2 separate regions of the Homo sapiens genome follow, and region 1 is linked to region 2. The links come from fine-mapping of genetic effects on gene expression. Tissue or cell type: thyroid. Region 2 holds a variant in brackets; the other region holds the start of a gene. All regions are shown on one strand. Distances are between the middles of the regions. Region 1 holds the start of XYLT1 (xylosyltransferase 1). Region 2 has its middle 82 kb from the start of XYLT1.

Evidence for each region.
Region 1: it holds the start of XYLT1, and the variant in region 2 is fine-mapped to the expression of XYLT1 in thyroid (GTEx, PIP above 0.99).

Annotation. Positions count from the first base shown.
Region 1 is chr16:17,469,483-17,472,313 of GRCh38, forward strand. XYLT1 (xylosyltransferase 1) reads right to left here and starts at 1,478. Exons shown (of 12, transcript NM_022166.4): 1 at 952-1,478. The coding sequence starts at 1,314. It overlaps LOC107987234 (a long non-coding RNA gene), which reads right to left and starts at 945. Exons shown (of 2, transcript XR_001752091.2): 1 at 1-945. It overlaps LOC105371106 (a long non-coding RNA gene), which reads right to left. Exons shown (of 3, transcript XR_933144.3): 3 at 1,525-2,622. RefSeq lists enhancers at 258-527, 648-697, 1,472-1,973.
Region 2 is chr16:17,551,958-17,554,847 of GRCh38, forward strand. No RefSeq gene overlaps it. Among named protein-coding and RNA genes, the nearest start is that of XYLT1, 82 kb to the left of the region's middle. The variant A/G (reference allele first, on the strand shown) is at 1,404.

The sequences.
Region 1 (2,831 bases), 83 kb before region 2:
GCTGGGCAAGGCAGCCCAGAGAAGGTGGGAAAGGTATCCCTGGAGAAGTTAGGGACAGGGTAGGAAGACAAGTCAGTTCCCCACCCAGCCACCCAGATGGCCCCAGATCTGCGGAAAAAACAGTTTCAGAGCCCTGACTGTTCACACCCACGAAGGGCAAAGTAATCCCATAGGAGTGGAAGCCCTGACGGTGTGGTCGGACACACAGCTGGTGACCTGAACCGGCCGCAACAAGACAGAAAGACAGAGACAACCAGCTAGGAGAAGGAGCCATGCCCTGAAACTGGAGATGGGGAGGAGATAAAGTCACAGAGGGCATGGGAGACGGCAAGGTTAGAGACAGAGAAGGTGAAGACGGAAGGCTCAAACATCCAGAGAAGAGAAACAGAAGACCCAAAGTAAGACCAGACACCCCGGACTGAGTATTGATTCAGGGGCATGGTCGGGGACTTGGGACGCCCAGCTCAGCCCTCATCGCAGGCCAGGACGAACAGAGGGCTCAACTGTCTGCACCCAGCTCGGCAAAAACCAGAGAGATGCTGCTGCGACAACCGCCCAGGAACAGCGGCTGAGGATCCGGGGAGATCCACTCACTCAGGCAGGGAGCGAGTCACCAAGACCTACACGCACGGAGCAAGTCACCTGGGGTCCCCAGCAAGAGTGATGGGGAACAGGAACCCAGCCAGGCTCCGGTAACCCCCAAAGCGCCCCCGCTGGAGAAAACTTCCCCCAGACCCCAAGGGGTCCGTGCTCAGACTCTGAAAGGGGCAGCCCACGACCCCTGAGCCTTGGCAGGGACCCCACCCGGCTTCCCGGGGCAAGAGGCGATGTGGAGTCGGTAGGCTTGCAGAGTCCCAGTCTGATGACCGAGTTCAAGGGCTAGGGGGGCGTGGGGTCGGGCTGCCTTCCTCCCTCCCTCGCCGCGGGGCGCGAGCCGAAAGGGCATCTTACCAGAGCCCGGGCGGGCAGTGCCCCCCGGCTGGCCGGCTGCTGTCCCCGCGGTTCTCCGGGGCCGCCTCCCCGCGCCCGCGCCTGGGGCCCCCGTCCTCCTCCTCCTCCGCCGCCGCCTCCTCCTCCTCCTCGGGCTGCAGCCGGCTCGGCGGGCAGGTCCCGGCGCTCCCGGCGCGGGGCCGGGGCCGGGGGCGGCTGCTCCCCGCCGCCGACCGCTGCGCCCCCGCGGCGCTCCCCGGCCCCGGAGTCGAGGCTGCTGAAATTCCACACGACCAGCGTCTGCAGCAGCAGCACCGTGAGCGCCGCGAGCAGCGCCGAGTGCGAGCGCCGGGCCAGCCTCCGGGCGCACGGCGCCGCCACCATCTTCGGAGCGCGGCCGGCGAGCGAGGCGCGGGGACCCCGGCACGCTCCGGGCCGCCCCCGCGCTCCCCGCAGCTCCCGCGGCCGCCGGCTGCCGCTCGGGCTCCCGCTCGGGCCGCCGCCGCCGCCCCCCTCCCCACACCCCTGTCCCCGCTGGAGGGGAGGGTGATGGGGAAGGCGCCGGGGGGACGCGGGCCGAGGCGGAGAGGGCGGGGCCTGGGGGAGGAGCCGAGGGAGGAAAAGGAGGAGGGAAAGGAAGGGGGTGGGGGCGATCAGAGAAGACAGACACCCCTCAGGACGTAGTGGGAGTAGGATGGGGGGCGAGGGGGACAATTCCCAAGGCGGAAAAAGAGAGGCAGGGGCCGCGAAACAGGGGACCTTTGGTTGAGGGTGGGCCCGCTCAGAATCCAGGGGAGGTCAGGAAGAGAGGGGGTCCCGAGGTCCTGTTTTCCCTGTGGGCCGCTGGAAGGAGGCAGTGCGTGGAGGAAGCTCCTAGCCCCGGAGTTCGCGGTCCAGGGATCTTCTGTCGGTACCAGACCGGTTGGCAGGTGGACACGTGAGAAACATTTCAGGAGTGTCAGAGCCACAGTCTGATCCCTTCATCCTGGGCTTGAAGGGGTGGGGAGGAGGCTTTGGGTGAGTTTCTGGAGTTAATCAGCACAAGCTCTGTGAGTGACTCCTGAATCACACACAATCCCCGGTGCCAACGATGTACTAAGTGTTCACTGAGTCACTTCTCTGGTCCCTGAGGACTCACAAGCCAAGAGACTCCAAACCCAGTTGGCAAGTGGTATAGCGGCAAAAGGGAGACCCGTGGAGTTACTCAACCTTCGCAGGATGCAAGCCCCAAAGGCTGGCCCCGCAGCCTCCCAGCGTGTCCTTTTCCCCATCCATCCTGAAGTCCCCCTTCCTGTCTGCACAGGGCCCAGGTCCTGGGGAAACAGGTCTTGCTCTTGAAAGTGGAGTTCTTTCCCATCCTGACTGGTCTGTCCCGGTGACCTTGAGCCAGGAGGAGGAGGACTCCTCCCTGAGCCCAAGCTTTCTCCTCTGTCGTTTAGGCAGAATGATCCCAATGGACTCAAATTTCATCCCGAGCCTTCTCTGACTCAGTCTTTCTGGTTTTTCCCTCCCTTGTCCTCTTGCCCAGGGCTTTATACACAGCAGCGCAGAACAGTGAGCATATGGGATGGCGTTGGTGTCCCATACGGGACCTAGCACTCTGGGAATACAACAGCAGATCAAATCAGTTTGTGAATTGAGGACTTGGCGTGAATGCTTCGCATCTTGTCTGCTGTGCTTTTTCACCTCATCCTAATTTACAAAGAGAAGAAAGTGGAGTGTAATGAAGGCTCATCAGACAATGAGGCAGGGAGTGGGAAGAGATTGTTTCATCCACTCCACAAGCATCCGTGAATACAAAGCTTGTGTCAGACACTGGGCCAGGTGCACGCATCCAAAGGTGAATGAGGTTTAATCTCATCTTCAGCAAGCCTGAGGTCTAGAGAAGCCTGATGTGGATG
Region 2 (2,890 bases):
CTGTCACCAGGCTGGAGTGCAGTGGCACAATCTCAGCTCACTGCAACTTCACCTCCTGGGTTCAAGCGATTCTCCTGCCTCAGCCTCCCGAGCAGCTGGGATTATAGGCACACGTCATTAGGCCCAGCTAATTTTTGTATGTTTAGTAGAGACGGGGTTTCACTATGTTGGCCAGGATGGTCTTGATCTCCTGGCCTTGTAATCTGCCCGCCTTGGCCTCCCAAAGCGCTGGGATTATAGGCATGAGCCACCACACCCGGCCATAACAATTATTTTATTCAACCTGCCTTATGAATGTAGGCAAAAAGCATCCAACTCCAGTTTCCCAGGATATCACTCATTATCCCAAAAGATGTGGCAGCAGCCTAGAAAGCAAGTCTGTTTTAAACCATAAAACCTCCCCTTTGTGAGCAGGAGACCTTCCGCACCACGTCTTCACACACACATGGAGCAACAGTACTTTGTGTTGCCTGTTGCGGCTGTAAAGAGGTTTTCATGCACACTGGCCCATTTGATTATCTAAGCAGTCCAGCTGGAAGGTCAGGACCATTCATACCTGAGGCTTTGGAACATCCTGACTTGCCCAAACCTGCTCAGCTTATAACCGCCACCACCACAAATCAGGAATTCAGCCATGTGTGGATAGACAGTCTTATTCAATCTTCCCCAAAACATAAGAAAGTGCTGTGTTCTTTTCCCTTCTAGAGAAAAATAAACTAACCCTTAGGAAACACGCTACCTGACCCATGCTCAGACAGTTAGACAGTACTGGAACTGGGTCTTGAACCCACACTGCCTCCCTCCCCAGGCCATGTTTGTAACCACAAAGCTAACTTGTGCTGGGCTAAGACAGACTTTTAACTCCTTGAATCTTGACTCTTTTTGCCGCATGACCTGGTTTGGTTCAACAATGGCAATTTATCTCTATTTAAAAGCAGATGTTGGGACGGGCATGGTGGCTCACGTCTGTAATCCCAGCACTTTGGGAGGCTGAGGAAGGTGGGTCACCTGAGGTTAGGGGTTTGAGACCAGCCTGACCAACATGGGGAAACCCCGTCTCCACTAAAAATACAAGAATTAGATGGGCGTGGTGGCGGGCACCTGTAATCCCAGCTACTCGGGAGGCTGAGGCAGGAGAATAGCTTGAACTCAGTGGGAGGAGGTTGCAGTGAGCCAAGATCATGCCGGTACACTCCAGCCTGGTTGACAGAACAAAACTCCTTCTCAAAAAAAAAAAGGAATGGATGCTGGCTGGGTACACTGGCTCACACCTGTAATCCCAGCACTTTGGGAGGCCAAGGCGGGCGGATCACTTGAGGTCAGGAGATTGAGACCATCCTGGCTAACAAAGCGAAACCCTGTCTCCACTAAAAATACAAAAAATTACCCAGGCGTGGTGGCAC[A/G]CGCCTGCAGTCCTAGCTACTCAGGAGCTACTGAAGCAGGAGAATCACTCGAACCTGGGAGGCGGAGGTTGCAGTGAGCCAGATGGCCCCACTGCACTCCAGTCTGGGTGACAGACGTAGACTCTGTCAAAAACAGAACAAAACAACAAAAATGATCTTTTAAAGTTACTTACTATCTAGGATACCTGCTAGGCTGTAGGCTCCGTCTGGAAGTGTGTGACAACTTAGGTCCTTGATAAGTATTTGCCAAGAAGGAGAAGGGATGGGTAGATGGGCTGGGCTGTCTGCAAAGTTGAAGCTCACCAGACCCCAGCTTCCTTCCTTCTGGGATGCATGAAACAGAGAAGTGTCAAAATGTCCAGCAAGGTAAATGACTTCCTGCTCCAAAGCATGGAAGGCTCATTTTCACCCCACTTAGCAGTGAATTATGTTACCTGCTGGTGAGGACAACTCCAGGAGGCCCGTAATTAGTTCCCTGATTATTCACAATTGAAGCGATCACGGCTAACTGATGGTGTTCCCACAAAAACCTGTAGGAGAGCCAGGCCATTTGGCAGCAACTGCGTTCCCAACAAGGCAGATCAATTTCCGTTTGATTTGTTTAAAAATAACAGATAAACAATGCGGAGCAGCTCGCAAGGTTTGGGTTCCTCCTTTCCTAAAATTTGAGGAAAGGAGGCCGTTTGAAATTACCAGTTAGGAATAAAACAGGCAGATCACATTCGTGGCTCAATCGGATTCCCCTATAATCAGAGCTAATAACTGTATTTTTCTGCTACTAAACAATTCTGTTATTTTAAAGCTAACTATACCGAGCTGGCTAAATAATACTCAGGGGCTGGCCACAGAGAAGACTCCCTCTGAAATGCAGCGATGATGCCCACTTTTTCCTACTTTGTTCTAATTTTGTCCCCAGCTGATGGGTGACCTGCTGACTCTTGCTGGGAGAGAGGCTGGAGGGATGTCCAGGGAGATTTTTTAAGAAACCTAGAATCTCACACCTTTCCCTGGAATACAAAGGGAACCAACCCATGTTTCCTTGAGGATAATGAATTTTAAAGGCTTCTCGACCTGGATTCACTCATAATCTGAGCTCTTCCTTGACCTCTGCTATTTTCCAAATATCTAAATTCCGTCCCTTTCTCAGCTAAGTCCTTCAATGACTTCCCACTGCCATTAAGATATGCCTAAGCCACTTAGGTGGCTGGCATGGCCCTGTCTGCCGGTCCCTCACCTACTTCTCTGGCCCCAAATTCCTCCATCCACCCGCAACTCCCTTTCCTTCATGTTCCCACTACACTGAATTATGATCTGCATGGAGCAGCATGATAGAGGCTATGGACTCTAGCAGCCAGGGTGCCTGCTTCTAACTCTAGCTCCACCATTCATCAGCTGTGTGACCTGGGGCAAGTCATGTGACCTCTTTGGGCCTCAGTGGCCACATCGATAACATGGGAATCATAGAAGTACTTGCCCTGTAATGTAGC